7 linked regions of the Homo sapiens genome follow. The protein of the gene in region 4 purifies or fractionates together with the protein of the main gene of each other region. This does not show direct contact. Each region holds a gene or a part of one and is shown on either strand. Other genes may lie near its edges.

Evidence for each region.
Region 1: the proteins of UGGT1 (region 4) and NUDCD1 purify together in Homo sapiens (co-immunoprecipitation; one large-scale study listed by IntAct). This does not show direct contact.
Region 2: the proteins of UGGT1 (region 4) and TMPRSS13 purify together in Homo sapiens (co-immunoprecipitation; one large-scale study listed by IntAct). This does not show direct contact.
Region 3: the proteins of UGGT1 (region 4) and DPF2 purify together in Homo sapiens (affinity purification with mass spectrometry; one large-scale study listed by BioGRID and IntAct). This does not show direct contact.
Region 5: the proteins of UGGT1 (region 4) and LTN1 purify together in Homo sapiens (affinity purification with mass spectrometry; one large-scale study listed by BioGRID and IntAct). This does not show direct contact.
Region 6: the proteins of UGGT1 (region 4) and ZNF546 purify together in Homo sapiens (co-immunoprecipitation; one large-scale study listed by IntAct). This does not show direct contact.
Region 7: the proteins of UGGT1 (region 4) and IARS2 purify together in Homo sapiens (affinity purification with mass spectrometry; one large-scale study listed by BioGRID and IntAct). This does not show direct contact.

Annotation. Positions count from the first base shown.
Region 1 is NC_000008.11:109,275,088-109,278,587, reverse strand, and holds part of NUDCD1 (nudC domain-containing protein 1), read left to right. Parts: intron 1-3,091; coding exon 3,092-3,236; intron 3,237-3,500.
Region 2 is NC_000011.10:117,908,903-117,912,402, reverse strand, and holds part of TMPRSS13 (transmembrane protease serine 13), read left to right. Parts: intron 1-542; coding exon 543-635; intron 636-1,652; coding exon 1,653-1,696; intron 1,697-2,434; coding exon 2,435-2,597; intron 2,598-3,500. UniProt on the Homo sapiens protein: Serine protease. Cleaves the proform of PRSS8/prostasin to form the active protein. Cleaves the proform of HGF to form the active protein which promotes MAPK signaling.
Region 3 is NC_000011.10:65,340,352-65,343,851, forward strand, and holds part of DPF2 (zinc finger protein ubi-d4), read left to right. Parts: intron 1-33; coding exon 34-194; intron 195-614; coding exon 615-722; intron 723-1,047; coding exon 1,048-1,211; intron 1,212-3,393; coding exon 3,394-3,486; intron 3,487-3,500. UniProt on the Homo sapiens protein: Plays an active role in transcriptional regulation by binding modified histones H3 and H4. Is a negative regulator of myeloid differentiation of hematopoietic progenitor cells. Might also have a role in the development and maturation of lymphoid cells.
Region 4 is NC_000002.12:128,181,700-128,185,199, forward strand, and holds part of UGGT1 (UDP-glucose:glycoprotein glucosyltransferase 1 precursor), read left to right. Parts: intron 1-430; coding exon 431-591; intron 592-1,975; coding exon 1,976-2,090; intron 2,091-3,500. UniProt on the Homo sapiens protein: Recognizes glycoproteins with minor folding defects. Reglucosylates single N-glycans near the misfolded part of the protein, thus providing quality control for protein folding in the endoplasmic reticulum.
Region 5 is NC_000021.9:28,954,878-28,958,377, reverse strand, and holds part of LTN1 (E3 ubiquitin-protein ligase listerin), read left to right. Parts: intron 1-901; coding exon 902-1,046; intron 1,047-1,429; coding exon 1,430-1,616; intron 1,617-3,500.
Region 6 is NC_000019.10:39,995,834-39,999,859, reverse strand, and holds the start of ZNF546 (zinc finger protein 546), read right to left. Parts: upstream 2,801-4,026; 5' UTR 2,703-2,800; intron 2,000-2,702; 5' UTR 1,945-1,999; intron 1,613-1,944; 5' UTR 1,534-1,612; coding exon 1,450-1,533; intron 1-1,449. UniProt on the Homo sapiens protein: May be involved in transcriptional regulation.
Region 7 is NC_000001.11:220,139,132-220,142,631, forward strand, and holds part of IARS2 (isoleucine--tRNA ligase, mitochondrial precursor), read left to right. Parts: coding exon 1-8; intron 9-1,051; coding exon 1,052-1,158; intron 1,159-2,671; coding exon 2,672-2,817; intron 2,818-3,500.

The sequences.
Region 1 (3,500 bases), on a different chromosome or scaffold from region 4:
CTTGTTATCTCTAGGGTGTAGGGAGATTGACTGAAGAAAGGCCAAGGGAACTGCCTGTATGGTGGAAATAATTCAGTATCCTCATTGGGTTACAAAGGTGTATGCATTTGTCAAAATCAGTAAATTCTACACTTAAAACCTGTGAATTTTATTTATAAATTACACCTCAATTAAAGGAGCAAAACTGTGTCTTTTTAAAAAAAGATAAAGTTAAGTGTCTTTTAAAATTATAATCCTTTGCCCCCCACAACTGTGCCATTTTGCAAATCTATTATTCCAGGCAGTTTTTTCCCCAATTATTTGGATTACTAAAATTACTTTCTTTTATTTTAAATCAAGTCTTAGTAATTATTAAATTCAGTGATGGATTAATGAATAGAGTTAGGCAGTTAATTTTTTAAATAGTCAAATTTGGTCAGAAATGAGAAATGGTTGATTTAAAATACAACCTAAATCTTGTGCTTTAAGTTGATGTTACATAGAGGATAACTTAGATGTTTTTACACAAAGTATAGTTCTTAATTAGTAGTATATGATCCATGTGAGTCTGATACAAGTCTAAATCATGAGCATCCAAGAAAAATATATCTAGCTCATAGAAAGTTTGAAGTTGTAAAAGGTATCTTACATTTTATTAATGAAGACATTTGGTGATTTTGTTACACTTTTTAATATATCAAAAATAATTGCTTGAAAGTTTCTTTTAAAAGTATTTTGTATCTCCACATACTCCATTTAATTATGTTTATGTGTATGTGAGTCACATTTACAAATTGGCAAGCCAACTAGAACATATTGTTAAATGTAAGTCATCAAGCAGTAACCCAGCAAAGGTCTGGGGGAATAGCTTGACTTCATGTAAGTAGTTTCAGCATTCAATGCATCAACATAGATCAGTATTATTTTTCCATTAAATTTGAGGTGTTTGATTATTATTTTGTGTTAAAAAAGATAACTACAATGTAGCGTAGGTGGTATTGTTGTTTTAAAAACACGATTTTCTGTACTTGAGTAAATTATTCGTACCTCTCGTTTTCAAAAGTTACTGTTGTCTCACTTTGGAAAGATTTTTTTAACTAATCTGTAGTTTATTATATTTGGCATTGTTTGGGGTTTTTTTTTTGCTTGGATGGTAGCATACAATACTAGTTTTAAAACGTACAAATGCAGTCTTAGAAGAAGGGTGCACTGATTAACTGTGCAAATTAATGATGGTTTGGAAATTATAACAGATTGTATCAACTCTTTCAGACCTCTTTAGGTAGCAACTAAGAACAGTTCACTGGGTAAGTGTTCTTTAATAGTTATTTACATATATTTTTTCAGAGAGGCAGAATAGTGCAGTAGTGAAGAACATGGACTTAGAGCCAGACTGTTTAAATAGCTTGTGACCTTGGCAAGTTGCTTAACCTCAGTACTTTTTTTTCTTACTTGTAAAATGGTGATGATAATAATATTTACAGTACTTTATTTGGTTGTTGTAACCAATGAGTTAAAACATGTAAAGTGCTTAAGACAGCACCTGACATATAGGTAAGTATAAGCTATGGTCATTATTACTATTATTATCATCATCATTATTATCAAGATTACCTTTATCCTTAGAAAATGTAACTCAGTCTGGGGGCTGGGCACGGTGGCTCACACCTATAATCCTAGCACTTTGGGAGACCAAGGCAGGCAGATCACTTGAGGCCAGGAGTTTAAGATCAGCCTGGCCAACATGACAAAACCCTGTCTCTACTAAAAATACAAATATTAGCCAGGTGGGCATGATGGCGTGGCCTGTAATCCCAGCTACTTACTTGGGAGGCTGAGGCACGAGAGTCACTTGAACCCGGGAGTTGGAGGTTGCAGTAAGAGAGATTGTGCCATTGCACTGCAGCCTGGGCAAGAGAGTGAGACTCTGTCTCAAAAAAAGAAAAGATGTAACTAAATCTGGGCTTTTATTGTGGGAGTAATTTTCAGTGCTAATTATAAGTACTCATATTATTATTTTGTATAGTCTCTTAAAATAGGTAGTTTCAGAAAAATGTTAAATGCTGTAATTCATAAGGTAGTGATTGTAACAGTCTTGAAAAAGAACAGCTGGTAAGTTTGCGTGTCCTATTTGATAACTATAATAGTTATTATTGTATTCTTGCAGTTGTGTTCCAGGGCATGAGCTAATATGGTACATGTGTACGAAAGATGGCACATGGAAAAGGTTGCTTTGTTGTGGAATAGCTATTACCACTCCCCTTTTCTGTTATAGCAGTGGGTGCTCCCAAAGCATCTTACTTGGGTTTTCCTTCCTATTCCAGAGGAACATGGGACAAGTTACTTCTTCTCCTATGTCCGTAGTCTGCCTTGACTCTGCTCTCTTTCCCTTTCCTGCTGCATCAGTCCTTGATCTCAGGGTTCCCTGACAGACCATTTTAAGTGCATCTGGAATTGTTTAGTTGTTTACATGTACAGAATTAGATTTTAAATAAGTTAATAGAGAACACATTAACATCTTTTTTCCCTGTATTACCAAAGTTAATTTTTTTCCTTATTTCTACTTTTCAGTTATTTAACATCTGTATTTTAAAATTAAGATTTGCGTTGATTTAACCTGCTTGATCTTCAGGTTAATAATCATATATTATGGCTCTTAGTTTGTGAAAATAAAGTTAATTGTTGATTCCAGACACAAAGAATTATCCTTTAATTACAGCCCTTTTACTCTTTGCTTACATGCCCACACCCCCGACCATTCCCCAGATGTCTTATAGATCCATGCTTCTTGTATTTCTATTAAGTTCAGGAACATACTGCATACCAGTACTTTCTGGATGACTTGACTCTTTCCAGGCAATCCTCTCTTCAGGCCATTTGATGTACCATTTCCAGTGGTACTTTCTTTCTTTATTAAATCTGGACTATTTGCCATTGGATTATAGGTTTTCCATCACATGCAAAACTTAAATGAGCAAGATTTTTGGTAAACCATCCTCTGGACACCGGAGGGTTCTTTCTATAGAAGATAGAAACAAACAATGTTTGCTACTGATTGTATAATTTGTATAATTGCTTAATGTAACATTACTTTTCCCATTTAAACTTCTAGCTTGGAGATTTCCTTGATTAAGAAGAATGAAGGACTGACCTGGCCAGAGCTAGTAATTGGAGATAAACAAGGGGAACTTATAAGAGATTCAGCCCAGTGTGCTGCAATAGCTGAACGTTTGATGCATTTGACCTCTGAAGAACTGGTAAGTAGTTGGAATAGTAGTGTGACTTTCCAAGGGTCCAAAAATATGTTATGTGAAGATTATGCCATGCTTTTCAAACAATATTTTGCTTTTCCTAATATAAAAGATACATATCAGATACTACTGATCTGAGTGATGTTTGAATATGGCCTAAGTTCTAATATTTATTTCTTACACTATGTAAATACATACATATATGTGTGGTCATACTGTATAGAGGGTTTGCCTGTATCTGTTTATGTGTGCGTATGTATTGTGCGCTCT
Region 2 (3,500 bases), on a different chromosome or scaffold from region 4:
CTTGCCCAGAGCTTCTCACGCTTTAATGTACAGATCAGTAACCTGGGATTCTTTAAAATGCAGATTCTTATTCAGTAGGTCTGGGGGGGTTGCTGCTGCTGCTTATTCACAGATGACAGTTTGGGTAGAAAAGGGCAAGATTGGTGTTTCTCAAACTTGAGTGTGCATCAGCATCACTAGAGAACCTGTTAAAATGGTGATCGCTGGGCCCACACCCAGAGCTTCTGATTCAGAAGCATTGCTAATATTAATAACTTCCCAGGCAATGCTAATGCTACCAGTCTCCACCATGAGAAATGCTGGGTAGTGCATAGGGCTGGGGATCTTGGAGGGGAGTTGGGGGAGATAAGGGGCAGTGGTGGAGCATGTGGGTGGGGCTGCACTTTATTGGGGCTTAGCTGCTGCTTGGAGGAGTTGGCCACCATTCAGACCATCACAGTCTGGCCTCTGTCGGCAGGGCTGGTGGGGCTCTAGCCTGCTGGAGGACTTGGGATGACTCTGTCTCCAGGGGGCTCATTCTTCTCCCCTCTGCTCCCTTGTAGTGCTCACCGGACAACCGAGGTTGCCCACAGGGATTTTGCCAACAGCTTCTCAATCTTGAGATACAACTCCACCATCCAGGAAAGCCTCCACAGGTATGGTGGGGCAGGCAGGCTGCCTGTTTGTGAGCAGGGGAAGGAGTGGGTAGGAGAGGGTCTTTGAGTCAGGGAGCCCCCTTCACTGGCTTTTCTAGTATCCAGCCTCCAGGAGTCCACCATGAGTGTTCAGGGGCATCTTGGAAATAGTCCTTATTCACCAAACTGCCTTCTGACTTAAGAATTCTTATCTGAGGCTCGGTGCTGAGGACAACTGGAGACCAGGGGTGCCCCTGAGAGTTTATCAGGTCGTCAGAGGCAATTCATGAACCTTGGGACCACCAGTCGGCCAGGTGTTTGGACTGAGAGCTGCTGCAGGGAGTGGACCTGGATTGGTGGGGGAGAAGCACCACTGACACCCTGGCATGACACTTTGCACATGCCGCTCCTCTACTCGGCCCATTCTCTGCTCTCTCCACCAGTGCAGTTAGGGGACAGGGTAGACAGGCAGCAGTAGGGGACCGCCAGGTGCAGGCATCAGGGACAGGGAGGGCCACGTTGGAAGCATCAGAGGTTTGGGGTCTCTGCCAGCTAGCATTGTTTGCCCTACGGAGGGGAGAGAAGAAGCCAGGCTCCAAGAGAAGTAATGGTGAGGGAAGGGATGTGAATTTGCTGCAGCTGGATGCCAGCTCTGTGCTGCGTGGTTTCTGCATCTGCGTTGAGGAACTGTGTCAGAGGAGCACCAGACCACCTGTTTAGTTGTGAAAAGATGCTGCGACAATGAAGTCCTAAGTTCGAAGAACATGGATCTGGGCCAATGTCTGCAATGTGCCACAAGGAAACTAGTTGAGGGGATGAGAGTGGAGATGGTTTGCACTGAGCCACTCCGATTCTGGACAAAGCACTGGAAGGGACAATGTCACATGGGGAAAGGGGAAGCTCAGAATCTCCTGCTTCCTGTACAAAGGGTAGCTTCCTTGGAAACAGGATAGGAACTGAGCAGGAGTCAATCAGGAAGGCTTCCTGGAGGAGGTAGCTAATGTGCCCTTTTCCCACTTTCTGTGTCTCCCCCTGCAGGTCTGAATGCCCTTCCCAGCGGTATATCTCTCTCCAGTGTTCCCGTAAGATGTTCTTCTTCTTGGATTGTGGCCAGTGTCGTGTGGGAGTAAAGGGCAGAGGGGCAGCACTCCTCCAAGGGAGGTGTTTGGCACAGGGGTTCAAGTCAGGAACAGTGTCTTAGCCAGCAGGCCTGCTTCAGGGCTGGAGTCCCTGTAAGGCACCGGTACACCCAGGGTAACATTTCCCCTTCTCCTGACTCTGGTAGGGGCTCAGCCCAGCAACCTTTTATTCCAAGGAAGCTGTCTGAGTCTTCTGTGCATCAGGGGAAGTGTATTCTTCCTATGTTTAGAAACAATAGAGACCCTCATTATAATGCTTGTCAATTCAGGGTCACATTAGAACTGGTCTGCATTCCTGTGCACCTAATGGCAGTCCTGGGACTTACCATCATGACCCCAATGCCCAACACAGTGCCCAAAGCTTGGGACACTCCAAAAGGATTTGTCAAGTCAATGAAAGAATGAGTGAAGGAGAAGAAAGAGGAACCTGCCTGGGGTCAAACTTTCCGCGGAATGATCCCAGAAAGCCACCCCACCATGTGGTGGCTCTGCTCTCACAGAAACTGCTGTGTGTAGCAGATAAGGGAGCAAAGCCCGTCCATGGAAGGGTGGGTGCCCTTCAGGATGGGGCTGCCTGAGCCTGTCCTGGCCCTGGGAGCACAGCAGAGGCATCCTGATCAGGAGCTCGGAAAGAACCCTGGGAGAAACAGGGTTCACAGTACGTCTACTCCTTCCCTCCAGACTGCGGACTGAGGGCCATGACCGGGCGGATCGTGGGAGGGGCGCTGGCCTCGGATAGCAAGTGGCCTTGGCAAGTGAGTCTGCACTTCGGCACCACCCACATCTGTGGAGGCACGCTCATTGACGCCCAGTGGGTGCTCACTGCCGCCCACTGCTTCTTCGTGTAAGTGCCTGAGAGGCAGGTGATTTGACACTGCCCAGGGTCGGGAACCACCAGGAAGGGCTGGCTGCAGACTGACTTCTTCGTGGAGGAGGATTCTGGGTGTGAGTCCAGCCCCCATGGGCCAGTTGGCACTGGTGTAGCTTGGGTGTTCACCTGGTCCTGAGAGTGTGGGTCGGGGGTGTTTGTTCCGAGCTAGGCCCAAGGATGAGAAAGTCCCATTGACGGCCCCAAGGGGGAGAGAGGCAGGCAGGAAGAGGGACTGGGAGCCTGCCCCTGAAGAACAGGGTGAAATGAAAAAGGCGTTGGGTTTGTTGCTGCTTCCTGCAAATGGAACTCATAGCAGAGGAGCCCCTAGTTATCCCAGAAATTGAGGGTTAGGGATTGCAGGCAGGGCACTGTATCAGCTGCTAACGGTCACCAGCTGGTCTATTGTCTTTGGGGGCCCACAGCCCAGGCTGGTGGGCAGGAAAGAGCTCTGGGACCAGGCCTCAGGGGCACTGGCCTCCCTAGTAATGAGTTCAGTGTGTTACTTTGTCCTGTCTGAATTTGCTGAGGGTAATAATACTGAGATCTTATCAGTACAAGCCCTTGACCCTGTCTGGTGAGTGAATCTGTGTCCCCATCCCTAGTCCCAGCACCTTCTGCAGCCCTGTGACTTGTCAGCATCTGTCAGTTCATATCGAGGCCCCAGAGTTTCAGCATGGCAGAAGTCAAAGTCTCCTATTTGATCCTTGGTGACTTGCAGAGGAGATAGTGGGGGGGGAGTGCCACACAGAGGTCTTACTCATCCTTCCCTCTTTATTACTGTAAGGTGCAGAGCTGCAAGCTCATAATTTTTGAGGGGCTGTGGGGGATTGCTTTGGACTCCAGGGATAAGATAGAGGGTTCCCTCCAGAGGTCATT
Region 3 (3,500 bases), on a different chromosome or scaffold from region 4:
AACATACACGCCTGATTTCTATCTTCCCTGCAGCCTTGGGGAGCAGTACTACAAAGATGCCATGGAGCAGTGCCACAATTACAATGCTCGCCTCTGTGCTGAGCGCAGCGTGCGCCTGCCTTTCTTGGACTCACAGACCGGAGTAGCCCAGAGCAATTGTTACATCTGGATGGAAAAGCGACACCGGGGTCCAGGTGAGGGTCCAGACTTGGGAGAAGGGGACTCAGGAGCATAAGGAGGAAGAAGCCTCCTCATCTTAGGTGATGAGACAGTTGATAGGGTTTTCCCTACTGCCTTCCACCTATGGATGAATATGGTCTTCCTGTGATTAGAAACCCAGGGAGGATGAAGCAGATGTTTGATACCAGCATCTTTGTTTTCTGCCCTGCTGAGGCCATTGTGTGTCTGGAGAACTATGTGTTAGCCAAGGCCCTGAAGCTTATATATCTATTTTTCTTTTCCACAGACTATTCCACCTAACCCCCTAGGCCCTCACTGTCAGAATTTCTCCCTTGCTCTAGAACTCAAAGGGGGGCCTACTTAATTAGAAAGTGTTTGGTATTACTTTCTAATACTGGGTTAGGGCCTGACTTCTATCTTTCTTCCTGCCACAGGATTGGCCTCCGGACAGCTGTACTCCTACCCTGCCCGGCGCTGGCGGAAAAAGCGGCGAGCCCATCCCCCTGAGGATCCACGACTTTCCTTCCCATCTATTAAGCCAGGTAAGGCACATACTTCCTGAGCAGAGGCGTGGCCTGCTGCATGGTGAGAGCCTGCTAATCACTGTGATATACCAGGCCCAGTACTAGATCCCAAATATACTCAAATGAATATGATGTGATTCTTTCCTTTAAGGACCTCAGTCTAGAAGGGGAGACAGGTAAACAGATAAGTTATGGTGCCAAGTGAACTAGGGTGTCTTAATTCCTGGGCGTGCAGAGAACAAAAGATAGTGACAGACCTTTGGTAAGCCCCAGCATTATGTGGACTCAGAGCAGTCTGCTTTCAGCCCTTTTGAGCCTTGCTTTATCCTGACCTTGCTTGCAGACACAGACCAGACCCTGAAGAAGGAGGGGCTGATCTCTCAGGATGGCAGTAGTTTAGAGGCTCTGTTGCGCACTGACCCCCTGGAGAAGCGAGGTGCCCCGGATCCCCGAGTTGATGATGACAGCCTGGGCGAGTTTCCTGTGACCAACAGTCGAGCGCGAAAGGTACAGGATTATCCCTGTGGCTAAGGGAGCTTTGATGGAAATCAGCCTCCTCTTCACTGGGGGCCACCTAGTTTCTAGAACTGAAACAGAAGCTGGAGTCCAGGAAGCAGGCCCCTGCAGTTCTGTTCTTACTTCAGTCCCTGATTATTGTCAGGTACTGACTGGCTTCTCTGTTGCTTCTAACTATAGACTCTCATTCATTCACTTTTATCACAGAAGGTTATTATTATACACATATATAATTTTCATTAAAAAAATTAAAATAGGCCAGATGCAGTGGCTCATGCCTGTAATCCCAGCACTTTGGGAGGCCAAGGCAGGAGGATTGCTCAAGTCCAGGAGTTCGAGACCAGCCTGGGCAACAAAGTGAGACCCCATCTCTACAAAAAAATAATAATTAAAAAAAAATAGCCAGGCATAGCAGCATGCGCCTGTTGTCCCAGCTACTAGGGAAGCTGAGGTGGGAGAATCACTTGAGCCTATGAGTTCGAGACTGCAATGAGTCATGATCATGCCACTGCACTCCAGCCTGGGCAACAAAAAAAAAAAATTAAAACCAGAAGGTGCAAGAATAGTACAATGAAATACCACATACTCTTTACCTAGATTTATCAATTCCACATTTTGCCACATTTGCCTTATCTGTCTTTGCTAAACTATTTGAGAGGAAACTTCAAAAACTTTTCAGTCTAGGCAACATAGCAGGACCTTGTCTCTACTAAAAATAAAAATAAAAAATTAGCTGGGCATGGTGGCACACGCCTGCAGTCCCAGCTACTCAGGAGGCTGAGGTGGGAGGATTGCTTGAGCCCAGGAGATTGAAGCTGTAGCTCTGCTTATGCCTCTGCACTCCAGCCTGGGTAACAGAGGGAGACCCTGTCTGGGAAGGGAGGGAAACAAACTTTTATCCCTAAGTGCTTTACTCTTTTATCACAAAAGTTTGTGTCACAGTTTTTTGGTCCCTGAGGTTACACAGTGAAGCACACTTAGTCTCTGCCAACAGAGAAGATAAGAATACATGTAAAAATAACAGCTATAAATATGCCAGCATTGGGTTAAGTGCCTTTTCATGCCCTTTCTCCTTTAGTCTGTACAACCTTATGGGGTAGGTCCTGTGTTCCCCATTTCACACAGAGGCTGAAACAAAGCAGTTTAAAAACTTCCCATGGGTCGGGCACGGTAGCTCACGCCTGTAATCCCAGCACTTTGGGAGGCCGAGGCAGGCGGATCTTGAGGTCAGGAGATCGAGACCATCCTGGCTAACATGGTGAAACCCCGTCTCTACTAAAAATACAAAAAAAATTAGCCAGGCGTGGTGGTGGGCACCTGCAGTCCCAGCTACTCAGGCGCAAACCCGGGAGGCAGAGCTTGCAGTGAGCCGAGATTGCGCCACTGCACTCCAGCCTAGGTGACAGAACGAGACTCCATCTCAAAAAAAAAAAAAAAACTTCCCATGGCCGGCCACGGTGGCTGACGCCTGTAATCCCAGCACTTTGGGAGGCCGAGGCAGTTGGATCACCTGAGGTCGGGAGTTCGAGACCAGCCTGACCAAGATGAAGAAACCCCGTCTCTACTAAAAATCCAAAATTAATCAGGTGTGGTGGCGCATGCCTGTAATTCCACCTACTTGGGAGGCTGAGGCAGGAGGATCGCTTGAACCCAGGAGACGGAGGTTGCGGTAAGCCAGTATTGCGCCATTGCACTCCAGCCTGGGCAACAAGAGCGAAACTCTGTCTCAAAAAAAAAAAAAAAAAAAAAAAGCTTCCCACAAGGTCACACAAATAAGCAACAACATTTTAATTTAAACTAGGAGGCGAGTGTCAGGACAGAACCACCAATAATGTGCTCCCAGGGTGGCCAATCAGAGGCAGGAGAGGGCATGGCTGCTTGTGGCATCAGGGCAACCTTTTGGAAGCATGCTATTTGATTTGGCCATGTGGCATGGTGGGGAAAGCATTTCAGGCTAAGGAAATAACGTGAAGCACAGGGGAAAGATATCCCAAAGTATGGAAGGGAGCAGGAGCAGGATTATAGCATGCTTGAAAGGCGTTGGTGAGGAATGAGGCTGGTGTGGGTGGGACCACGTCACAGAGGAGGTTCTGGGTGGCCTTGGCCAGTCTCATCATAGGGGAGCTTTTGGATGCACATATTTCTACCCATGCTAACCCTCCTGTCCACTCAGCGGATCCTAGAACCAGATGACTTCCTGGATGACCTCGATGATGAAGACTATGAAGAAGATACTCCCAAGCGTCGGGGAAAGGGGAAATCCAAGGTGAGGGGCCAGCG
Region 4 (3,500 bases):
AAGTGTGCCTTCCTGATTGTAACATAGCCACATTTAATCCTTGTTGAGTACTTACGATGGGCAAGGCATTATTCTACATCTGTCCATCCATATGTTAACTTACATAATCCTCCCAGCAACCCTGTGAGATAGGTACTGTCATTATCATTATCTCCATTTTACAGATGAAGAAACTGAGGCACAGAAAGGCTAAGCAGTTGAAATTTGTTTTATTCCTACTCCCACACACCTTGCTAAGAAGTGTCTTACATGTTAGTGAGTCAACCAGGTAATAAGTGGAGCAATCAAAGTGCATCTGCCCCTAGTGCCTGTGCCACTAACCACGGAGCAGCCTTCCATGCTGCCTTAAGCGAGCCACTCTGTATCTGAAGGAAACCGCATTAGAGCTGTCTGCATGGTTGCTTAACAAATGACTTTTTATATTCTCCAGATTGTACGAACAGATCTGAAAGAGTTAAGAGATTTCAATTTGGATGGTGCTCCTTATGGTTACACTCCTTTCTGTGACAGCCGAAGAGAAATGGACGGCTACAGGTTCTGGAAGTCAGGGTACTGGGCCAGTCATTTAGCCGGGCGAAAGTATCATATCAGGTACTGAAAAGAAGCACTCCTAACACTGTTACGGGGTTTTCCTTAAAATTGATTTTGTGTGGTTAAAATTGTGAATAGGTAATACATTGGTATGGTTGAAAAATAAAAATGATAAAAAATACACAGTGGCTGGGTGCAGTGGCTCATGCCTTAATCCCAGCACTTTGGGATGCCAAGGCAGGTGGATCACCTGAGGTCAGGATTTCAAGACCAGCCTGGCCAACATGGCGAAACCCCGTCTCTACTAAAAATACAAAAATTAGCTGGGCATGGTGGTGGGCGCCTGTAATCCCAGCTACTCGGGAGGCTAAGGCAGGAGAATTGCTTGAACCCAGGAGGCGGAGGTTGCAGTGAGCTGAGATCACGCCGCTGCACTCCAGCCTGGATGACAGAGTGAGATTCCATCTCAAAAAAAAAAAAAAATACAGTGTAAAAAAAACTTCCTAATCCTGTCTCTCTCTTTCCTACTCAGTTCCTGTTCTCACAGCAGATAACCTCCCAACTTATTGACTGTCTATCCTTCCAGATTTTCTTAATTCTTACAGAAACAGCTGTGAATGTGTATTCTTTTTTTTTTTACACAAAATATGCTACCTATTTATACATTTTGTAACTTGGCTTTTTTTTTTTTTTTTTTACTTAATGTCATATACATCTTCTCAGTGAATAGAGAGAGACCTGATTCCTTTTCATAGCTGCATATTATTCCAGTGTGTGAGTGTTATTTATAGTTTTCCCTGTGACCTACAATGTTGCAATGAATAATCTACTAAATAATTTTTCATATCTCATATATTTGTGAGATAAATTCCTAGACGTAGACCTTTTAGGTCGAACAGTGTGTGTGTTGTTACATTTCTAATGAGCACCCCATTCTCTTCTCTGCGAGAAGTGTGATTTGAAGATGTGCAGGGAAGAGGAACGTGTAGGAAGCGGCACATGCAGAGATCACTGCTGGGGTTTAGTGATGGTGGCTTCATTCTTTACATTCCTGGTCCAAAAGAACTGTAAGGACTGTAACACTCTGGGGTTTTCCCCCCCCTGTAACATTGAAGACATCATCAGGATATCATTGAATAATGGTTGTTTATCAGTTACTATGGCTTTTGTTACTGCCGCATATGCTAGAAATCTTTGGTCTGAGATTATTTCTTTCGGATGGCAAATACAGAACAGTAACAAAAGCATAGCACAGTATAGATTTTGCAGTGACTTTCTTAGAGATCTTTAAAGTAGCACACTTTAACTCCACTGTAGGGCTGTAGCATACCTTTTCAAAGAAAAGCCAGAATATTTGGCTAGTGGCCTGTTCCATTATTCATTGGGTTTAGTTTTCCTGTCGTAATCCATGGTTGGTTGTAACAAGCGGGTCTTCTTTATTCAGTGCACTATATGTTGTGGATCTGAAGAAGTTTAGGAAAATAGCTGCTGGTGACAGACTCAGGGGACAGTACCAAGGTCTGAGTCAGGACCCTAACAGCCTTTCAAATCTTGATCAAGTAAGTGTCCATTTTTTATGGTTAACTGTGAGTGACGGGTATACAGTGTTGCATCAGAAAATGAAGTATTACTTGTGTCTTCAGTCCTCTCCTCACAGGATGGCGTCTTGTTTTTTCATGGTGTGTGTGTGTGTGTGTGTGTGTGTGTGAGAGAGAGAGAGAGAGAGAGAGATTTTTATCTGCCCTCAAGACATATCAGCGTGAAAAATGTCATAGATTTGATGCTGGCTGGGGAGAGAGATGGAAGGAGAATGCTGCCTCTCTGAACCATTAGCATATCTTTGTATTTTGTACTCAAACTAATCTCATAGGTTTGTTTCTCTACCTACTAGGGTCAGTTTGTTTTTCTGCTGTAGGAACTAAATAGCTCAGGATTCGTAGTATAGAATCACAGTATAGTATCACAGCTTCCCCTTTTTCTATGTCAGAAACCATGATGTGTTTCAAGGCTAGCTAAATTACTGTTTGTTAATGTTAAGCATTTTTCAGAGGTGAGATTGTAGTTTAAGGGTTTTGGATACATATTTCACATATTTTAAGCATTTTATTTTGCTTAAGTCTACTTAAATGTTTTTAAACCTTTATTGTGATATGTAGCATCCATAAAGAAAAGTATACAAAAAACATACATACATATTCACATACATCCAGGAATTATTATGAAGCAAATACCCAGATACCACAACCTAGTTCAAGAACTAGAACATTATCAGCATCCCAGAAGCCATCCTTCCTCCCTAACAAAAGTGTCTAGCATCACGACTTTTATGGTAATCATTTTTGTTTCTTTATAGATTTACTGTTTAAGCATGTATCCATAAACACTAGTTTAATTTGCTCATTTTCTTCTCCTCTATCTCAATGGAATAATAAAAGGTAAACTTTTTTGTTTGTTTGTTTGTTTTGAGACAGAATCTCACTCTGTTTCCCAGGCTGGAGTGCAGTGGCATGCTCTGGGTTGCACTCACTGCAACCTCCACCTCCCGGGTTCAAGTGATCCTCCTGCCTCAGCCTCCTGAGTAACTAGGATTACAGGCACGCACCACCACTCCTGGCTAATTTTTGTATTTTCAGTAGAGACAGGGTTTCACCATGTTGGCCAGGCTGGTCTCAAACTCCTGACCTCAAGTGATCCACCCGCTTTGGCCTCCCAAAGTGCCGGGATTACAATCACGAGCCACAGTGCCCGGCTCTACTTACTTTAAAATTTGTGTGATACCTGGTATCTTCTAATTTATGGAGCTACTATGGATCTGATTCTGTTGTATTATTTCTGTTATTCTTTTGTTCATACTGTCTATCACATATTTGTTTATCTTCTGTAGTGTGTCAGGCGTTGTTTTTGCAGAATTATTTTGGGGAATAATTTGAGTTCAAAAATGGTATCACCCAACAGTATTTGTTTCTCTC
Region 5 (3,500 bases), on a different chromosome or scaffold from region 4:
TTTTGAGCTTGGTTTCAGTGTCTCTTTTATACTTGAACAGTGTCCTTAAATTAGATTCCATGATCAGTGTGAGTGCCTATGAAAAATGACTTGTAGGGCTCGTCCCTATAATCCCAGCTACTCAGTAGGCTGAGGTGGGAGGATCAGTTGAGACCTCCAGGAGTTTGAGACCAGCCTGAGCAACATAGTGAGATGCCATCTCTTAAAAAAAAGAGAAATGAAAAGTGACTTGTTAGGTAACAAATCTACAGGACTCTTATGAAAAGACCCAAACGAATTTTTCCAAAACCATTTTGTTTCAATGACCATCCATTTAAACTGCCAGTTAATTGAAGGATAATTTGCTATAACATACCTGCTGGACTCATAACTTATAGACAGTAAAGTGATGGTGATACTATCCTTTGTCATAGGCTGGTGTGCATTGTAGCCTCTCATGGTCACCACATGTACTGATTGTTCTTGGTTATTTATTTTTTGGGGACAGGTAGGCAGTGTTTTAAGATGTTGAATTGCAAGTATATTTTACCTCTCATACCTAAATCCATATAATAAAGGAGAAGAGAGAATGCATTTAGAGGATATTGGGTTTAGGTAAAATAGTGCTGCATTTCATAAGGTAGCTGTATTTCTGAAATACCTGGTCTGAAATAGGTCAGGTCCTCTTCATTCTGAGATAGATAGGAAGCAACACTAGATTTCAAATGATAAATATTGGATTACCTCCCCAGTTTGACTGTTATGTTGGTGTGTCATCGGTGGGGGAATGTCACTTACCTCTTTTTATTTTCATCATTTCTTTTTGTTCAGGTGAGCTATTATAGGGTATTTAATATGTATTGGGGTATTCAAACTAGTCATAGCGTAACTACAACAGTTAAGTTCTCTGCATTATTTTTAGTCTCCAAGTCCTCTTGTCTGCTGTTGATGATTTGCTAAATACACTTCTAGAGAGTGAAGATTCTTATCTTATGGGAGTTTATATTGGAAGTGTAATGCCGAACGACAGTGAATGGGAAAAGATGAGGCAGTCTCTTCCTATGCAGGTATTTTGGAAATTGAAGAGTACATATCTCATTCTGAAGTTTGGATTTCATGCAAGCTTGAATATTTTTATTTTGGGGAAGAAAAACATAAATAAAATGAGTATTTTGCTTTGCTTTGATGTCTTTGTATGCTCATATACTGGATGTTTGCTTTTTGCAAGACACCATTTGACAGTGGCAGTGGGCATGGTACAAAGACTTAGGACCTAGTTCTGTACTTAAGGAGTCTTAAAGAAATACACATGTTGATAATTTCCTGTAAAAGAAAACAAACTTCTAGGTTTCTGTGGTTTTGGTAATAAATATTCTCACAACTTCATTTTTGTTCAGTCTCAATTGCTTAGGTAATAAATAATTTTGTATATAACGTATTCTTTTCACAGTGGTTACATAGACCTCTTTTAGAGGGAAGATTGAGTTTGAATTATGAATGTTTCAAAACAGATTTTAAGGAACAGGACATAAAGACACTTCCCAGCCATTTGTGTACTTCAGCATTATTGAGCAAAATGGTCTTAATTGCACTGAGAAAGGAAACAGTCTTAGAAAATAATGAGCTTGAGAAAATAAGTAAGTATATATGAGTATTTACATATAACATAATGCATGAATGAATATAATTTTGAAATAATCTTGATTATACTGCAGTTTAAATCTTTAATTCAAGAATCTTCAGCTTTCTTTTTCCTATTTTAATGATGAGAACCTTGAAGTTACTTAAGTGGTGAATGTGAAATTGCAAATTAGATACGAATATATTGGAATCTTGCTATAATCTTGTTAACTGTGGATCGTAATTTGGTGTTAGCTACTCAGGCTGTCATGACATCAATGTAAACAGATCCTGTGGCACATACCCTAAAGAAAATGGGTGAGGCTTTGGTGTTTTATCAAGGATTCAGAATTTTCTGTTGATTAAAAAAAAATTGATACCTGATAATTTTACATATTTATGGGGTACATGTGATATTTTGATATATACATAGAATGTGTAGTGATCAAATCAGGCTAAGCAGGATATCCATCACCTCAAACATTTATCATTTCTTTGTGTTGAGAACATTTCAAATCTTCTAGTTATTTTGCAATATAAATCATTGTTAACTATGGTCATCCTACTGTGTTATTGAATACTAGGTCATATATCTTCTCTCTCACTGTATTTTGGTACCCATTCACCGACCTCTCTTCATCCCCTGCTCTCCCTGACCCTTCTCAGGGTAACCATCAGTCTACTATACTATTCTATCTTCATGAGATCCACTTTTTTAGCTCCCATATACAAATTAGAACATGTGATGTTTGTCTTTCCGTGCATGGTTTATTTCATTTAGCATGATGATGTCCAGTTTCATCCATGTTGCTGCAAATGACAGTATTTCATTCCTTTTTTTTTTTTTTTTTTTTTTGAGACAGAGTCTCGCTCTGTTGCCCAGGCTTGAGTGCAGTGGCGCAATCTCGGCTCACCACAACCTCTGCTTCCCAGGTTCAAGTGATTCTCCTGCCTCAACCTCCCAAGTAGATGGGACTACAGGCGCACACCACCATGCCCAGCTAATTTTTGTATTTTTGGTAGAGACGGGGTTTCACTATGTTGGCCAGGCTGGTCTTGAACTCCTGACCTCGTGATCCGCCCGTCTCAGCCTCCCAAAGTGCTGGGATTATAGAAGTGAGCTACCGTGCCTGGCCTCATTCTTTTTTTAATGGCTGAATAGTATTCCATTGTGCATATGTACCACATTTTATATATCCATTCATTCACTGATGGACACTTAGGTTGATTTCATATCTCAGCTATTGTGAATAGTGCTGCAGCAAATATAGGGGTGCAGATATACCTTTGATATACTGGTTTTCTAAATATTCAATGGGATTGCTGGATTGTGTGATAGTTCTATTTTTAGTTTTTTGAAATACTTCCATATCGTTTTCCAAAATGGCTGTACTAATTTGCATTCCTACCAATAGTATATAAGTTCCTATTTCTCTGCATTCTTGCCAGCATTTGTTATTTTTTGTCTTTGTTTTTTTAGAGATGGGGTGTTACTATGTTGCCCAGACAGGTCTTTATCCTGGGCTCAAGCAATCCTCTTGCCTCAGCCTCCCAAAGTGCTGCGATTACAAGCAGTGCCACCATTCCCAGCTTATTTCTTACCTTTTTGACAAGAGGCATTCTAACTGGGGTTTTGATTTGCATTTCCCTGATGATTACTAATATTGAGCATGGGATTTTTTTTTCCTTTCTTGCCGTTGAGTTGTTTGAGTTCCTTATATATTCCTTATGTTAGCCCCTTGTTGGATGAATAGTTTGCAAATATTTTCTCCCATTCTACAGATTGTCTCTTCACTTTGTTGATTGTTTCTTTTGCTGTGCAGAAAGCTTTTAGTTTAACATAGTCCTATTTGCCTGTTTTTGTTGCCTTCGCTTTTGAAGTCTTAGCCATAAAAATATTT
Region 6 (4,026 bases), on a different chromosome or scaffold from region 4:
CACACCTGTAATCCCAGCACTTTGGGAGGCCGAGGTGGGTGGATCACCTGAGGTCAGGAGTTTGAGACCAGCTTGGCCAACATGGCGAAACCCCATCTCTATTAAAAATACAAAAAATTAGCTGGGCGTGGTAGCAGGCGCCTGTAATCCCAGCTACTCGGGAGGCTGAGGCAGGAGAATTTCTTGAACCTGGGAGATGGAGGTTGCAGTAAGCCAAGATCACATCACTGCACTCCAGCCTGGGCAACAGAACGAGACTCTGTCAAAAAAAAAAAAAAATCTTGCTAAAATATAGCTCCCCAAAGTGTTAATAGTGATGCTGGGGCTATTTTAACTTTCTTCTTTATAAGTGCCTTATGTAATATAATGAGTAACTAAATAATTTATAAAAGGTGAATATTAATTCTATAACCAGAAGTATACAATAGATCTATATCCAATTATAAAATAAAATGTTTTAACACATCAGAAGCAAATTGGTTTGACATGTATGCAAACAATAGGAAAACAGCATGACCATTATAAATAAATGCCTGCCAGTTCTTGAACATTCTTCTTCAATTCAACAAGACCTTTTCACTGTTAAGATTCTTCTCTTAATACACAAGCCAGGTGAACAGTGTCTGCAGACTGAATAAGAAAATTTGAACAAAGCAGACAGAAGAGTGTTTGGTTCTCCTCTACTTCTCCAGCAAATAATCAGTTGAAATGTTAATTTAGATATAATGCTTGTTAAATGTCTTTAAATCCTAATATTAGTGAGATTCATATAAAATTTAAAATTTGCGGCTGGGTGCGGTGGTTCATGCCTGTAATCCCAGCACTTTGGGAGGCCAAGGCAAGTGAATCACCTGAGGTCAGGAGTTCCAGACCAGCGTGGCCAACGTGGTGAAACCCTGTCTCGACTAAAAATACAAAAATTAGCCAGGCATGGTGGCAGGCGCCTGTAATCCCAGCTACCTGGGAGGCTGAGGCAGGAGAATCACTTGAACCCAGGAGGCAGAGGCTGCAGTAAGCCGAGTTCATGCCATTGCACTCCAGCCTGGGTGACACAGCGAGACTCCTTCTCAAAAAAAGAAAAAAAAATTGCGTATTATTCTTCATCACTATGACTATTACTTTACTCATATGTACTTTTTATTCTTATGACTAACTCTGTATAAAAATAAATCTCAACTCATGGATTCCTTGGAAAAAAATCCCTGCTCATGTTCACACAGATTTCTATGCTTGGACTTCCAATCACATTCCCACTTCTAAAAGCCTTAAAAGCAGGCGACCATTATCACTTGCTTACTGACACTAGTCAGGTCATCTCTAATCCTGTCATATTTTAAAACTGAGGTCTTTGGAGAAGATTGGAGAAGATGGATGATGTGATTCTACCTAAACATTAATCTCAATAAAACAAAGTTTTAACTTTAGACTCCAGGATATGCATTTCTCTACCATTATAGAAAGTGAGTGCAGAGGAATGATTTGAAAAATGAGAAAGTCATTTGGAGGCCCGTGAAGAGGAGGGTCCACCTGCATGGTCCATTGTTCACTGGAAAGGAAGGCCTGGGATAGGTCACTGGACAATTCAGGAAAAGCAAAGCAATGTTTCCATTTCCTAAAAACAAAAACATTTTATGCATTTATTTAAAGATTTACTTAAAGATATAGACCAGAGAGTTGCAATTTATGTGACAAATAATTTAGTCTTTTTAGATTGAATCAAATGAACTTCTTCAAAGGGAAAAATGCAAATGAAAGCTACAGAAAGTACCTGGGGATGTGATTTTTGTGACTGTGAGCAATGAGGTGACAGGCTCTGTGGTAGATTGTGGCTGTGCTTGACATAGCAGTGTGGTACCACGCCGTATGACTGGGTGCAGGCAAGGCTGTGTGAGGATTAGAATGTGTGATTTCCATTTTATGAATAAAAAGGAAATATAAACTTACCTGGACCTGAACTTTTAGACCTGCTACAACAATTGTTCCCTCCTTTTCAGGATCCCTGTTTTGATGAATAGCAGAATGGGGGAAGAAAAATAATCATGAGACAGCAGGCCTTTCTTAAGAGCACAGACCGACCTAGAATATCCCCTCCAGCGCCACATCTGTGCTGACCTCACGCACATAACAGCTGTGTGAGAGTGAGGCTGGGATCTGTCTCTGAACTCACACCAGGTTTCTAGATCAAAGGTATGGGAATGCAGTGGTTCTGAAACATGCAGCTGCCCACACAGCGGCTCCAACTGCGCAGTCTTCCAACCTGTCGTCCCAGGAGTCTGTTTTAGGGACACTTCTAATTCAAAAGTCCAATCGCCAACCCAGGTCTGTACCTTCTTGCTGGGAACCTTCATCCCAGAGCTCGATATTTGACTTCCCTCTTGGGGACACTGCTGTGTGCAAACACCGAGGCCGTGAGGAGGGTAGAGGGTCAGTGACACACACCAGAGAGCCAGGCACCTGTCTCAGCCTCACACCCGCACCCACACCCGCCCAACCCGGTCCTGACAGGCGCCCCGTCGCGCGCACACACACACATACACCGTCTGCCACATTTTGTCACACAATTTCCCTTCTCCGCTCCCCAAGCACGCACAGGCCTGAGGCTCCCTGCGGGCACGACACGCCAGGTCTGGGCCCTGGAGCGCCTCACTTTGGGCGGCAGTTCTATCCCCAGTCCTACTCGTAAGAGTCCCGTTCCGCCTCACCTAGCTCGGACTTCTCGCCCGCAAGTGAATAATAACGGTTAAGGTGACTGAACCGTTAAGAACGCAATGTAAAGGGCCCTTGGGGTCCAGGCAACACTGCCCAAGGGGCTTCTGGGAAATGTAGTCCACAGCCGGAAACTGATCCTTTTGGGCGGAGGCGCAGGCGCGCGCGCATCCGGCGGGTTCGACTCACTTACCAGGAACCCACGCAGGAAGCTGAGGAGGAGAACAGACGCCTCTGGGCCACTGGCCGGGCCACTTGAGCGTGGGACCGCCGAGTGTGACCCTGAGGCCGAGTGCGTGCGGGACTGGGCGATAGCTCCGCCAGGCAGGATTTTGTTTGTTTCACCTCTTGAGGTAGTCCCGGCGTGTAGTACATAATAGGCGCTTAATATGTGTATTGTAAAGAATGAGTGCCTGGCCATTTGTATTTGCCTTGTGAGCGCGTGTGTGTGGCACTGTGAGGGTTGCGGGACCGACGGAACCTCTCTGGCTCTGGCGGGTTGTGTTTCCGCGTGTGTGTAATTTGAGTGTGAGTCAGTGTGTAGTGAGTGAAGGGATCTGACTGGAGAAAACCACAGTAAATACCCGGGGCTGTGATTTTTGTGACTTTGGTCAATGGGACGACAGGCTCTGTGGTAGACTGGCTGTGCTTGACGTAACAATGTGGTACTATGCCGTGTGGTTGCCGGCAAGGCTATGTGAAGATGAGAATGTGTGATTTGGAAAATCTGGATGTGGAACATCACGGGTGCCAGTGGAATTGTGACTCTGTGTGTGTATAAAAGTTTGCAACCATAGGCCTATATGTCTGTGGGATAAAGAGAATATGTTGCGTCTTCTTGGAGTATCAGCTTTATTTAAACATTTGCATCAGAGAGTTGCGATTTATGTGCCAAAGATTTTTGTCTTTTTATATTGAATTAAATGAATTTTTTACAAAGAGAAAAATGAAAATAATAGTAACTTTCAAAAAATATTAAGAATTTCCTTCCACTCTTATATTCTGGCAATGGATCTTTGGCAATGGGTCTTTGGCAGATCAATTTGAAAAGCTTGGACTGAGGAAATTATACTTGGAAAGCACATTAGGCAGTCAGCCCTTGGTTCCTAAATACCATGCTCCACTGAAAGGAGCAAGGCTCCATGGAGAAATGGCAGATTCCAGAGCTGGGGAAGGGAAAGTTCAGAATGAACTTGGAACATCTTGTGCTTGAAAGTAAGGCAGTGCTCAAAGAATGGTGGGGACGTGTTCAAAGGACATGGAAACCAGATTGAAGGGACTTCCACTGACCAAACTTGACATGGTTTGAGCATCAAAATA
Region 7 (3,500 bases), on a different chromosome or scaffold from region 4:
CAAACAAGGTAAATGTAAATTAATAAACTTTTGGAAACTAGAAATATCAGCACTATTGTAGGTTAAAATTTTAGTTTTATCTGAGTGGAACAGACCTTGCTGGAAATAGTAACTATAGCACTCTTGAAGAGAAATATGTCCAGACTTCCCCTCGGACCAGATTTTTCTCTCATGATTAGCTCTATTTTTCCAACAAGAAGGAATAAAGTGGAGTTATACTTTATCTGCACATGTGCTCCTCATAATAAAGTACAGAAATAACCAAAATGGACTATCCTATTTGTCTCATAAGATACTTACTCATTTTCATATAGACTTAAATAATTTCTGTTTTCTGGCTGGGTGTGGAAACTCACACCTATAAATCCTACTACTTTGGGAGGCCGAGGTGGGAGGATTGCTTGAGGCCAGGTGTTCAAGACCAGCCTGGGCAACAGAGCAGGAACCTATCTCTAGAAAAATTTTAAAAATTAGCCAGGCGTGTTAGCCAGTGCATGTAGTCCCAGCTCCTTGGGAGGCTGAGGCAGGAGAATCGCTTGAGCCCATGGTTTTGAGGCTGCAGTGAGCTGTGATTGTGCCACTGCACTCCAGCCTGGTTGACAGAGTGAGACCCTGTCTTAAAAAAAAAAAATTGTGTTTTCTCATAATTGGAAATGTGTTTGCATTAGTGTACCCTTAAGTCAGAGGTGTACATACCAATTTTGCCCAAATCAAAAATAAATGAGGCATAAATGAAGGAACACTAATGAATTGTTGGTGACGTCCACTGTTTGCTGTTGTTAAAATGGTGTGATTTTGTTATTTACAATCTCATTCTTTCCTTAATTAATGTCCTTTCGTAGTTCTCAGAGTAAAATAGTATTTTCTGAGTGTAGTCAAATGTGTTATCCAGAAATGACATTTGGAAGATTCCCAGGAGTTCTTGCATATTGCCTGTTTTGTATTTGTCTCATTGAAACATATTTTTGAAAGGAGCATATTTTGCTTGTGATGACTTACATTTTCATTTGCCTGTCTCAGCTTCCAAATTTATTTTGGCTTTGTTCCCTAGATTACCGAATTATACAAACAATATGATTTTGGAAAAGTTGTTCGGCTGTTACGGACGTTTTATACCAGAGAGCTCTCTAACTTTTATTTCAGTATAATCAAAGATAGGTATGTATGACTAAATATTAAAATGCTTAACAATGGCCAGGTGTGGTGACTCACGCCTGTAATCCCAGCACTTTGGGAGGCCGAGGCGGGTGGATGACATGAGGCCAGGAGTTCGAGACCAGTATGGCAAAATACAAAAATTAGCCGGGCATGGTGGCACATGCCTGTAATCCGAGTCACTCAGGAGACTGAGGCACGAGAATCGCTTGAACTTGGGAGGCGGAGGTTGCAATGAGCAGAGATTGTGCTGCTGCACTCCAGCCTGGGTGACAGAGCAAGATCTCGTCTCAAAAAATAACAACAACAAAACCTCAACAAGTATTTTTTGAGTGTCTACTTGTGTTTGGCAACCGTCAGGGATACAGTGATGAGCAAGATGGGCAGTGTTGTGCAGTTATTAAGATTGGGTTCCGGGCCAGGCGTGGTGCCTCACGCCTGTAATCCCAGCACTTTGGGAGGCCGAGGCGGGCGGATCACGAGGTCAGGAGATCGAGACCATCCTGGCTAACACAGTGAAACCCCGTCTCTACTAAAAATACAAAAAATTAGCTGGGCGTGGTGGCGGGTGCCTGTAGTTCCAGCTACTTGGGAGGCTGAGGCAGGAGAATGGCGTGAACCCGGGAGGCAGAGCTTGCAGTGAGCCGAGATCGTGACACTGCACTTCAGCCTGGGCGACAGAGCAAGACTCCGTCTCAAAAAAAAAAAAAAAAAAAGATTGGGTTCCGGAGTCAAGTCTGAGTATAAAGGTTTGACCTCCCGCTTACTAGCTTTCTGATTTGGGGCAACTTATTCTGTAATCTGTTTCTTCATCTGTAAAATGGGTATAATAATACTTACCTCGTGATTGAGAAGGAAAAGCAATAATGTGCTTAAAGCTGTGCTTGATAAAGTGTTCAAAAAATCATCACTACTAATATCAGACGATGAACATAATGCTTGTTCTCAGGAGTTCTCAAATCCTGAGGGGAAGAGAGAGATATATATGTGCAATTATATGGTAACAGTGTATAATATTAGCAGTATCCTTGTAGAAGAGGCCTTGATGCCAAGTCTTCATCTGTTGCTCCAGTGTGCAGGTGACGGTCCTACCTTCATGGTAATGAGTCCAGTCTGAGGCGTTATCCTCAGCCTGTCAGCACCCCAAGGACCTTGCACATAGGGATTATAACTCCTACTCCTTCCCTTAAAACACTAATAACATTGGAGTGGGTGGGAGCCACATGTTAAATACCATCAACTAACTTATTCATAGTCCTTTAATACAGTAGTCTAGACTCTAGTTGTCATCCACCTGAGAAACAGAATGAGATAGCGTAGCCATGAGTGCTTTCAAGGAGGTGGGTACACCTGGACGGAGTAAAATTGTAGGAGAGTGTATTGTATTCTTTAAGTAGAAGATGATTAGAGCCATAGGATTAGCCACTAGGAATAAACTCAACCTGAGGCAGGTCCCATCTAGGTGACCATAATGTATAAAGTATTGTCAACTGCTGAATAAGTTGTTCTTGTTCAGGCTCTATTGTGAAAAGGAAAATGACCCCAAACGACGCTCTTGTCAGACTGCATTAGTTGAAATTTTGGATGTAATAGTTCGTTCTTTTGCTCCCATTCTTCCTCACCTGGCTGAAGAGGTGTTCCAGCACATACCTTATATTAAAGGTAAGGAATACTTCATTTATTCTCTTAATGAGAAATATCCCTGATCAAGGTGCAACTTCTACTTCTATCTGCTTCATAAAAGGGGCACTTATCCATTTACAGTGACTGCTGTGTGACACAGTGTGTCTTGGTCATGTATTTGTTTCTGCACCTATTTGTAGAGGAGTAGGGTAAATTTCAGAATTCTGTGCTTTCTGAAATGTATTAGCAGCTTGACAGTGTCGAGAAATCACCTTTTTTCTTAAATACCTTTATAACTGTTCTGAAATGGCTGGCATGGTGGCTCACACCTGTAATCCCAGCACTTTGGGAGGCCGAGGTGGGCAGATCACTTGAGGTCAGGAGTTCAAAATTAGCCAGGCCAACATGGCGAAACCCCATCTCTACTAAAAATATAAAAATTAGTGGGGCATGGTGGTGGCGGGTGCCTGTAGTCCCAGCTACTTGGGAGGCTAAGGCAGGAGAATTGCTTGAACTCGGGAGGTGGAAGTTGCAGTGAGCCAAGATCATGCCACTGTACTTCAGCCTGGGTGACAGAGCAAGACTGTCAAAAAAAATGTTCTGAAATATATTTTAGGTTGTATTAAAACAAAATATAGTGCTTTTAGTGAGTTTTATGTTAGTTGTTTTCTTCTGATTGTATTAAGTTTATAAAAATTAGAAACTATAGAAGTGTAGGAAGA